Linked DNA regions of Homo sapiens: region 2 is linked to region 1. The links come from fine-mapping of genetic effects on gene expression. A gene starts in region 1. The other region holds a variant in brackets. All regions are shown on one strand. Distances are between the middles of the regions.

Region 1 (5,379 bases):
TATTTTATGGATAGTGGGAAGTAATGGAGGTTTCTCAGTAAGGAAGCAACATAATGCAATGTTATGGAAAGATTTATCTAGTGAAATGATTCTCCACAACTGTGTATACTGTGTGTAGATGCTATGTGTGTATATGTGAGGAAGGTAGGTAAATAATCAGAACCAAAGGGAAATTTTTGCCTTTTTCATACTAAACATGAATGTACACCCCACCCTCGTTCAGGAAAAAGTTCATTGATGTAATGAACCATAACTACTATTGGAAGTGGCCATATTCCTCCCTCAGGTGTTTAAAGAAAGTTCAGATCCACTGATCCCGAAGGAGTGTGCAGGATGGTGTCGGGGGCAGGAGTGGGGATCAAAAGCAGGGAGCACCAGGTAGGTGCCATTGCAATAACCCTGGAGCATGATCATAAGGCTGGATTTAAAAGGCAGTAAAATGTTTGGAAAAGAAGAGACAACTTTCTTTTTTTGAGACAGACTCTCGTTCTGTTACCCAGGTTGGAGTGCAGTGGTGCAATCTCAGCCTCCCAGGCTCACATGATTCTCCTGCCTCAGCCTCCCAACTAGCTGAGATTACAGGTGCCCACTACCATGCCTGGATAATTTTTTGTTTTTTTAGTAGAGACAGGGTTTCACCATGTTGGTTAGGCTGGTCTCAAACTCCTGACCTCAAGTGATCTGCCCACCTCAGCCTCCCAAGTGCTAAGATTACAGGAGTGAGCCACCGCGTCAGGCCACAACCTTATCTGAAAATGAAGTATTCATCTTGTTCCCTTTACCCTATTACCATCTAAATAACCACAAGGCTTCTGATAACTGCTTTGAAATTCAAGTCCCCCAAAACCAAAAACTGGTTGTTTTCTGAGACAAATATAGTTTTGCAATTCTTATTAACAGTCAGATGAAATCAGGATGAGGTGACTTCCAGGATGCAAGAGACATTTAAATCCATTTTGTGCAGGAACATTATTTTGCTTCATAGACATTTTAAAAAGATAGATTAGCTTCATATCTTTAGAAATGTTATAGCCATCACCAGCAAATTTCTAAGTCCACTAACCATCCCCAATAATAATAACCTCTAATCTTTATTGTACTCTACAGTTGTAGAGCGCTTTCATATACAAAGCCAATGATATTATTTCTCACTTTACAGTTGAAGAAACGAGCCTGGAAATGCTAAGGGATTTGCCCAAGTCTGTATAGCTGGTAAGGAAATGGCAGGACTGAGATCCTAATCTAATGCTCCTCCTACACTGTTGCCTCATGAAATGAAAATAAGGTTGGCATAGACTCATTTGTCAAAGATGTTCATTCAAACATTATTTGGTGCTTACTATGTGTTAGGCACTGGGGATTCAGTTAGTACCCTCATGGAGATTGTAGTAAGTGGGGAATATAGTCTATCTGTGATTATCTGAGTTAAGAGGAATGATTAAAATGATTGAAATTAAAGTTCTTTATGAGTTTTCTGATCCATAGCCAACAGAACATAAAAAGTTGCAAATGTGGCCAGGCGCGGTGGCTCACACCTGTAATCCCAGCACTTTGGGGGTCGAGGTGGGTGGCCCATGAGGTCAAGAGATCAAGACCATCCTGGCCAACATTGCAAAACCCCGTCTCTACTAAAAATACAAAAATTAGCTGGTCATGGTGGCACACACCCATAGTCCCAGCTACTCGGGAAGCTAAGGCAGGAGAATCACTTTAATCCGGGAGGTGGAGGTTGCAGTGAGCTGAGATCGTGCCACTGCACTGCACTCCTGGCGATAGGTGGAGGCTCCGTCTCAAAAAAAAACAAAAATGCAAATGTATTCCGTAATAAGAGAGAAGAGGCAGAAAGAGGCGTAGAGATTCAAAGGACAAAAAAAAAAAAAGTTTAAAAAAAAGAAATGGAAAAAAGGCCAGAATAAAAGCCAATTCTCAATAAATGTTAGACCAAGCTTGTCCAACCTGCAACCCACCGGCCGCATGCAGCCCAGGACGGCTTATGAATGCAGCCCAACAACACAAATTTGTAAACTTTCTTAAAACATTTGACATTTTTTTTGCTTTTTTTTTGTTGTTGTTTTTAACTCATCAGCTATCGTTAGTGTATTTTACGTGTGGCCCAAGACAATTCTTCTTCCAATGTGGGCCAGGGAAGACAAAATATAACACTCCTGTGTTAGAAAATGAGAACAACCAACATGTTTCTACTCACAGTTGTTCACATGGACACAAAACTGCCTGATTCCATTAGAATCCATGAAAACTCTTGAAGGAAACGGGGAATTACTCCTGAAGATAACAGAGTTGTCTACACAAACCCAGCTTGAAGACCTGTGAGGAAAGAGGAGGGAGAAGATATATTTAGAAGGGGCGGGGCAGGTCCAAAAAAGAGTGTCCCAGCAATATCGGCCAGATGATGCCAAAGAGGACTCCTTGGGCACCTATAGGACGACACGAAGGTCTTATTCTACTGGCCAGCCCTGCTCTAGAGAATCAGAAAAGGCAATTCCTAGGAAAAACCAAGGGAATGTCCTAGGAGTGGAAGTACGGGTGGGAGGCACAAAGACTAACTCTTCTTACATCCAAATGTTACCCGTTGTAGGCCCCAAACCCCTTTAGGATTCAGTCTGAGCAACGAAGCTCACCTTACGCTGCCTGGAAGGCAGAAGGAGAAAACTGTCCTCGGATGGAGAAGATAGCAGTCCCTGTCGCAGCAGCAATTTATATCGCAGGCTCCAGGAGTCAAGTCACAGACACAGATCGGTAAGACTATGAAAGTACGACACAGAGTGAGTGGGATGAAGATCCCCAAACTCTCCCAGGTGCTCACCCTCCTTCTTCCGACAGCCCCACTCCTGCTTTGTGGCAGCTCAACTTTGCTCACAGAATTTTAGATCTCAGAAGTAAGTTTCCACCCCCACAACGTTTTCCCTCACCTGGGAAGAGGTCCACAGTCCTATTCCCAGGGGCCGAGGGAGTCACGAGAGTAGGGACCACTGTAGGGAGTCCAGGCACGGCCGGGCGAGTTGCAGTCGCCTCTGAAGGGGACTGGAGGGTTCCGCCATCCGTCCCTCGCTGCAGCTCCAAAGACGTGGGCACTGCCCCTGATGGGGAGGAAGAGGGCTGAGGCCGGACGCCATCGGGGAACACCAGAAAGAACACTTGCAGGAGCGCGAGCTGTGGGGTGCGCATGGGGCATTCAGGGCCTCCGGGTCCGACGTAGGCCTCCGCGGTCTCCAATCGCATTGCCAGAGCGTGGGTGGGAGGAGTCGCATAGCGTCTGACGCCATCCGCGTGCCTCTTCTCATTGGCTCATGAGAAGGCTGAGAGCTCTTCAACCAATCGAAAGTGGGGTTGTTACAGCTCTTTCAGTGTCCTTCGGTCTGCGCCCTCCTCCTTAACGCGGGCCGGGCCGTGCCTCCGTTGCCTGGCAACCGTCAGTGACGAAGAAGCCCTTGCGCCTTCCTTCCGCTAGGTGGCGGTAGGAGTTCGGCGGACCGAGAGGTTCCGCGCCCACTTCGCGGCCCAGAGGACTGAGCCCGGCCTCCGGTGCAAGGAAACCCCAGAGGCCGGAACTAGAATTGCAAATTTTTTTTCACCCCGGATTCCAACGGTGAGAAACCCTTTCTATGGAAGAATAATGTTCTCAGGTGGGGGAAACACACCTAAGGTCACATACCTTAAAAAACAGTCTCCTCTAAATATGGCTTTTTTAAAAAAAAAAAAAACACATTAGAAATAATGTTCATTCAGCTCCTTACATTTTAACATTGAGAAATTTTGAAAACCCTAAAGAAATGCATCAAATCATTAAAGATGGACTGCATGTTTGTTGTTAGAAAAAGCAGTGAGAGAAAAATAAGAAAAAAGGGCAGGAAAAATGTGAGAAAATAGGGAGAGAAAGAATAAAAAAAAGAAACATTGTCTAGGAGGTGAGAAAATAAGATGGAGGAATGGAAATAGAAGATTTTTTTCCCCGTGTTAATGGCAAATTTTTTAAGCCTCTCTAGGAGGTTTTTGTTCTTCCCGGGAATGGCGTGCCTCTTCCGATTCCCCACAGCAGCGCGGGCCATGGGACTTTCCTTCGGTATTGGAAATGTACCGTAGCTGCACTGTCCAGCATGGTAGTCACCGGCCTTATGTGGCAATTGTGCGCTTGAAATGTGGCTAGCGTGACTGAGGAGCTGATTTTTTTTTTTTTTTTTTTTTTTGAGACGGTGTTTCGCTCTGTCGCTCAGGCTGGAGTGCAGTGGTGTGATCTCAGCTCACTGCAACCTCTGCCTCTAGGATTCAGGTGATTCTTCTGTTTCAGCCTCCTGAGTAGCTGGGATGACAGGCACGCGCCACCACGCCCGGCTAATTTTATTTTTATTTTTAGTAGAGATGGGGTTTCACCATGTTGTCCAGGCTGGTCTCGAATTCCTGACCTCAAGTGACCCTCCCGCCTTGGCCTCCTAAAGTGCTGGGATTACAGCTGTGAGTCGCTGTGCCTGGCCTGAATTTTTAATTTTTAAATTGTAATTAATTCAAAGTTAACCACAGACGTGAGTAGCTACCATATTGTACAGTGGGACTGTAGATGATCAAAATATTGCTCCTCCTAGACCCAGTATTTTCCTATGTCCACGGTTCTGACATCTGGATTATTTTGGATATTTAGTTTTAGTATATAAATTAACATCTGTTAAGAGTTATCTAAAATCTAGTACACTTACCTAAAATCTGGTCAACACCTCCCTTTACAAGTGAATCATTTAACTCAGGTAAGTTTTAGGACATTTGACTTTACTTGAATTCTCTTACAAGATCTTTATTTTCTAATGTTTTGAAGTCAGTAGCTAAAAGTCTCTCTGTGTTATAAATATTTTCAAATATGTTTTTATGTTGTTGTGTGATAGACAGCTATGGGAGATATGTGTTTGGTCTTAAAACATTTATTTACCTTATTAGTAATTTCTATAGGAAAAGGCCAAGTTCATATTATTCAGATTATATGATCATATGTATATACTAGAATGTAAATTCCAAAAATAGTGAGTTTTGTCTGTTTTGTTCATTGAAATATCCCCATGCCTAGAACAGTGTCTGGGACATGTTAGATGTGCATTAAATATTTTAAAAATATATTAAAAATTGTTTTGTTGAACTCTTTAGAATTAATCCTTAGGAATATTTTTAGTTTATTTTATTTCAGGATTGTATTTCTTTCTATAAAATTTCTTCTTTTTGCAACCAATTTACCATGTAATGATCTTTCTATAAAATTTCCATTGTACATCTGATCAGAGACTATTTTAGATTTCAAAGTTTGGAATTTAAATGGCAACTCTCAAATAGTGTTAAATTATTTCTGAATTTATTAGCGTTGGCAAAAGACTGTTGGTT
Region 2 (5,379 bases), 720 kb after region 1:
TGAGACAAGAACCACTTCTGCTTCCCCTTCAGTGATGCCCCTTGGGTTTCTGCCCTCTCCCTCTGTCCTCTCTCTCCATATTCCATCTGCTCCTACGGCTTTTAACCATCATCTGCAGCCTCACAGCTAATCCTCTGTTTCCAGCCCAGGATCCTCTGCTGAGCCCCAGATGCCTCGTAACACCTCCCCTGGGCTGTCCTATGGGCCTCTTATATCCAACGTGCTCAAAACCAAATTTATCACAATTCCATCCTTCTCCTGCTCACTCCATGATCCTTGTCTCCTGAGCCTGAATCTGAGGGCATTCTCAGCTCCTCCCTCTCCCTCATACTCTCCTACCAAACCAGGAGCCAGGTCCTGTCCACTCTACCTTTTTTGCACCCCTTGAACCCATACCCTCCTCCTTGTTCCCAGACCATTGCCATAGCTCAAGTGATCAACACCCCATTCTTGAACTCTTTCCAGTAGCTTCTTAACTGGCCTCCCTCCCTGTAGACTCAGCCACTTCTACTCTACTGCTCCCCTTGGCCACAATGCTGCAATGGAATCATCCCAGAATGCAAGGGGAGGCACGTGCCTTTTTTGCTTAGAACGCTTCACCAACTTCCAGTCACCACTTGGATCTCTAGGCTGTTTGCTCACTGACTTCTGCCTTCCTCTCCAGCCTGACTCTTTAATCCCATAACCAAAAGAATACTTAACAAGAATAAAGCATATGTCATTATTTTAAGCAACACTGAGCTCCTTGTAGGCCTCAAATATGCCCTTGCACATGCTATCCGCTCCCTAGGCTGCCCATGCCCTCTGTTTTTTTGTCTGTTTGCAAACTCCTATTCATTCTCCAAAACCCCATCAGATGTCTTTCTCTATTAAAAGTCTTCCCCAAGCCTTTTCTACTCCTCCCATCTGGAGTTTATCATTCCCTGCTCTGGGTCTTAATCATTTGTGTAGTCTCTTCTTATCATACTGTATTGTTTTTCTTAAGGAGTGATGGTATTTGTCTTCTTTGCTAAAAGTAAGTTCCTCAAGCAGGGAGACTGGGTGTTTTATCTCTGTCCTTAGAAACTACAGCACAGCAGACCTCAAAAAATGCTTCTTGAATTAAATATGCAATCAGGATAAAGCACTGTCTTTTAAAAACTTTGCAAAATAGTTATTTACATCCAAAATGGAAGTGAAAATGTACATATGTCACCTAGCTATTAGCTGTGCATGCTCTCTCTCTCTGTCTCTCTCTGTCTCTCTCTCTCTCTCTCTCTCTCTCTGTCTCTCTCAAGCACTGTTTCTATTTCCCTAAATTCTGCACTACATTAGAAAATACCTATTACCCCTGGTTCTTCCTGGTTACATCACTTTGTTATCTTTTTGTTTTTGTGCAGACTTTTTTTTTCTAAATCAGATTTCAAGCTCACTTTCCAACCTTAGCCTGTGGGAGTATAGATCATCTGCTGATTTCCTGTTCAGCATCTCTGTACCCAACATGTAACCCTTGACCTGTCTTTCTCTAGCTCCCATAGCCTCATTTTTGAGTCTGGACTCCTGCAGAGAAACTTTAGTGGAATCCTTGGCCTCCCTCACTGACTTTACCACATTTTAAACCACAAGTGATGACTCTGCAGAAAATCCTAAATTCAATCATTAGCTACTCCAAAAACAGGCACTTCTGCCCTAACGAAAGGTGTGTCCTTTTGTAATTATTTTCTTGGTTCCCTTGCAGAAAGGAATTCTGCAGCACAAGCATAAGGATCACACAGTCTATAAGCACCCCACGCTACCTGGCCACATCACGTAGATGACTTTGCCAGCGGGCCTGGGGCATAGAGGCCATGTTCTTGCACTTACTCATCATTCATAGGACTTTCCGATGTGCCAGGCCCTGCACTGGGCACTTTCCTTGCACCAACTCATTTCATCTTCATAACACCCTAGGAGTCAGGTGCCATTATCACAAGAGCTCTCACTCTACAGGGGAGAAGACTGAGCCTGCAGAGCTTAAGTGACTTTCCCAGGGCACAGAGGTAGTCATGGAGAGGCAGGCCAGGAGCTCACCTCTGGGAATCCTCCTCCTTCCAGCCAGTGTTTCCTGCTGCCCAAGGAACAGTAGGCCTTATGATACATTAAATTATAGAGCTAAGAACATTGCAGACTTCAAAAACCAAAACATCAGGAACAACATTGGCTCACACTCAGACCGCTCTTTGGTGCTGGACGTCCTCCCTTGCGTATCCTAAGCTGCCAGCAAGAGCTTCCAGCTGTTTACTACAAGAGCCGTCCCCTGTGTAAACCACAGCGGTGACGTTCCTTCCCTCTTTCATGTAGGACAACTCTTAGCATTGACATTCTGCTAAACTAAGACAGAGTTCAGCAGATGCCTCAGGGAATAAAACTGTCAGTTCTGAGTTCTGAAACAAAGAGGCCCCTGTACAAGAGAACTGTCTCCTCATCTCCTGGATCTTTGCCCAGCAAAACCTCCAAAGAGACCGCTCCCCACAGCCTGGGTCCAACCAAGGGGGAGGGGAGAAGAACTGCAATAAACTAGAGAGAATGAAGTTGGAAGGAGACAGCTCAATCGTAAAGAGACACAAGGATTGAGTTTCCCATCAGCAGGGTATAGCATTTGCCCACCTCCCCAGATCAGCATATGTTCCATGGGCTCTATTCTGCCCTTTTACAGAATCCAACATGAGGTACAGGCCAGCTTTAGGGTCTTTGTGACCAGAAGTAATGACATGGAGTTGGGAGCGGGGAAACTATTGACAAAATGCTCATAGAAAAGCTCCCAGTAAAAACCCAGTGAACAAAATTGTTTTCCGAAAATCCAGGTAAAAAGTTGGCAGAAAGGACAATGCAGTCATCCACCTGCAACAAAACAGATTTGCTGAAACCATTCTGAACTCTGGGGCAGAGGTGACAAGGCAGCAGTGGCAGATTGTTAAAATAAAAAGTCACTCCTCCTAATAGCCAAATCCTACTGCAATGTGAAGCT[T/G]CCATACCTCCCAGTAAGAGGTGGAGTCTATTTCTCCACTTGCTTGAGTTTGGGGCTGGCCTTGTGGCTTGCTTTGACCAACAGAATGTGGCAGAAGTGATGTCATGCAAGTTCCAGAGCTGGGGCCTTAAGAGGCTTGCAGCTTCCCCGCTTGCTCTCTTGGAACTGTGAGTCCCCATGCAGTGTAAAGCCTGGTCTAGCCTACTGGAGGATGAGACGCCACATGAAGGAGAACCAAGGGGCTCCCAGAGAGAACAGAGGGGCATGAACAGGCAGCACCAAGTGCCAGGCGTGTGACTGGTCATTCTGGACTCCCCAGCCCAATCAATCTGTCAGATGACTGTTGCTGTGAGTGATCCCAGGAAAGACCAGAGAAGAACAAGCCTGACTAACTAACCCACAGTATCATCAAAAATAATAAGCTGCTGTTTTAAGTCACTAAGCTTGGGGGTCAATTGCTCTGCAGCAGTAGCTAATGTAACACTAGCAGGAGGGGCTGCCTGCCCTCGGCGAGCTGCTCTGCTCCTAGCTGCCCATCCTCCTGTGTGCTGCCCCTGCTGATCTCCCTCCTAGAGATTCTGGGGAATTTTGATGAGGAATTTTTATTTCATGGGTTTGGCCCATGGATTTCCACTGGTCTGGGCTGATGGTTCACATTGACAATAGCATTAGAAATGGTTATCCCCTGAGGGACAAAAGGCATGGTATTATGAGCTAGCAATCCTAGAAAAAAAAATACATATATATATTTCAAAAAGAAAGACAAGAAGAAACGCTGGTGCTGGAAGATCCTCTGCCTGCATCCTGTCCTGGCCTCTGGCTCCAGAGCTTGTGCAGTGCCTGGCACGGAGCAGGCGGTGAGAAGGCAGTGCAGTCCCTACAGCACACAAATGCCCTACATGGTACAGACTTACAGATTCACCTTACTAAAGTAGCCATCGCATTGGTGAGCACATGGAAAGAACTGTAATGAGCATAATGGAAATTTCTACCCTCACCTATTCCCCAACATTGCAGGTCCTCCTGGCCCCTTTGAACTCATTCATTAATTTATTCATTTAGCAAATGTCTATTGAATACCTACTAGGTGCCAGGCACTATGTTGGGTGCTGGGGACTAGAAGAGAATGAGATAGTCTCTGTCCTCAAGGATCTCAGTCTACTGCCAGAGAAGGGAATACAACAGATACATATGAATGTATATGAATATATATATGAATATATATGTATATATAAATATATAAATTAATATATGAATTTATAAAATAATAATTATTAATAGCTAAATTAAATGAATATTGATTTCATTTGAATATATAAATTATATGAATATATAAATTGAATATATAAATTAATATGAATATATAAATTAATAATTATTAATAGATAAATTAAAAAGCAATATGAAGAGTTATGGCAGCTACAGAAACAAGACCCAAGGAAAAAGCTTCTCCCTTGGGCCAACTTGACATAGATTCCCTGACAAAATTGATACTTGGTCTCTAGTAGCAGCCTGTAACTCCTGGATGATGGGGTGGGCCTTTGGCTATTCCCTGCACCATTTCCCAAACAGGTGAATCAGCCCACCCCAAGACCCAAGCATTGCCTCCCCCTTGGATATTTGCACACTGCACTGGCGTCCTGAGATTCCCTGCACACAGCCTCAGGGTGGATCCCTCAATGTCTCAGTTTCCTAATCTGGAAGAGGAGGCCCTTCCAGCTTCAGATTTCCTGTATGGCAGTGAATGAGATCATAATCTGTCAACCCCTCACCCATCTGCATCGGATTGAGAAATTGCAACTTGAAAGGTTAGAGCTGGAAGGGGCTCAGAGAACATCTAGTCCAACCCTCTCACAAGGAAACCAAGGCCTGTGGAGGTGGAGATTTAACCATCACACAGCTGCCCCTAATTACTGTCTGCCTCCCTCAAAGGCAAGGGGTCACAGGAGAACTATGACTAGAACCCGGCTTCTGCCTCTCAGTTCAGTGGTCTCTTCATCACACCATGTTTCTTTTACTATCTTTGGAAAAGAGCCAGGAGAAGGTCAAAGAGGCCAGGAAGGCTCAATTTCACGCTACTCCCAAGTGCTGTCGAAGATGCCAGCTTTAACACAACTCCACCCATGATAGCTCATGTCTAGGTGCAGGATAGAGATCATGACTTAAGCAGCTGTGTGGCCAGAGGAGCAGTACCCCCTGAGAACTTGGGATGCTGAGATTTAGAGGATTTCTCCCATAGTCCTATCAACAAACTCATCAACAGGATGCTTTTGGCAGCCTTACCCAAGAACCAAGGAGCCCCTGGCAAACAGTGTCCCTTTCACTCCCAAGAGCCATATGTTTTCTGAGCAAATGAATTCCTTTCATCTTTATGGACATGGAGACTCATGGAA

The links.
Region 2: its variant is fine-mapped to the expression of TCTN3 in prefrontal cortex (GTEx, PIP 0.97).

What each region holds. Positions count from the first base shown.
Region 1 is chr10:95,690,714-95,696,092 of GRCh38, forward strand. TCTN3 (tectonic family member 3) reads right to left here and starts at 3,214. Exons shown (of 14, transcript NM_015631.6): 1 at 2,931-3,214; 2 at 2,640-2,763; 3 at 2,207-2,325. The coding sequence starts at 3,186. It also overlaps a transcript of ENTPD1 not described here. RefSeq lists enhancers at 2,919-3,198, 3,673-4,174.
Region 2 is chr10:96,414,502-96,419,880 of GRCh38, forward strand. The region is part of intron 7 of TLL2 (tolloid like 2); the gene reads right to left. Among named protein-coding and RNA genes, the nearest start is that of OPALIN, 58 kb to the left of the region's middle. The variant T/G (reference allele first, on the strand shown) is at 2,987.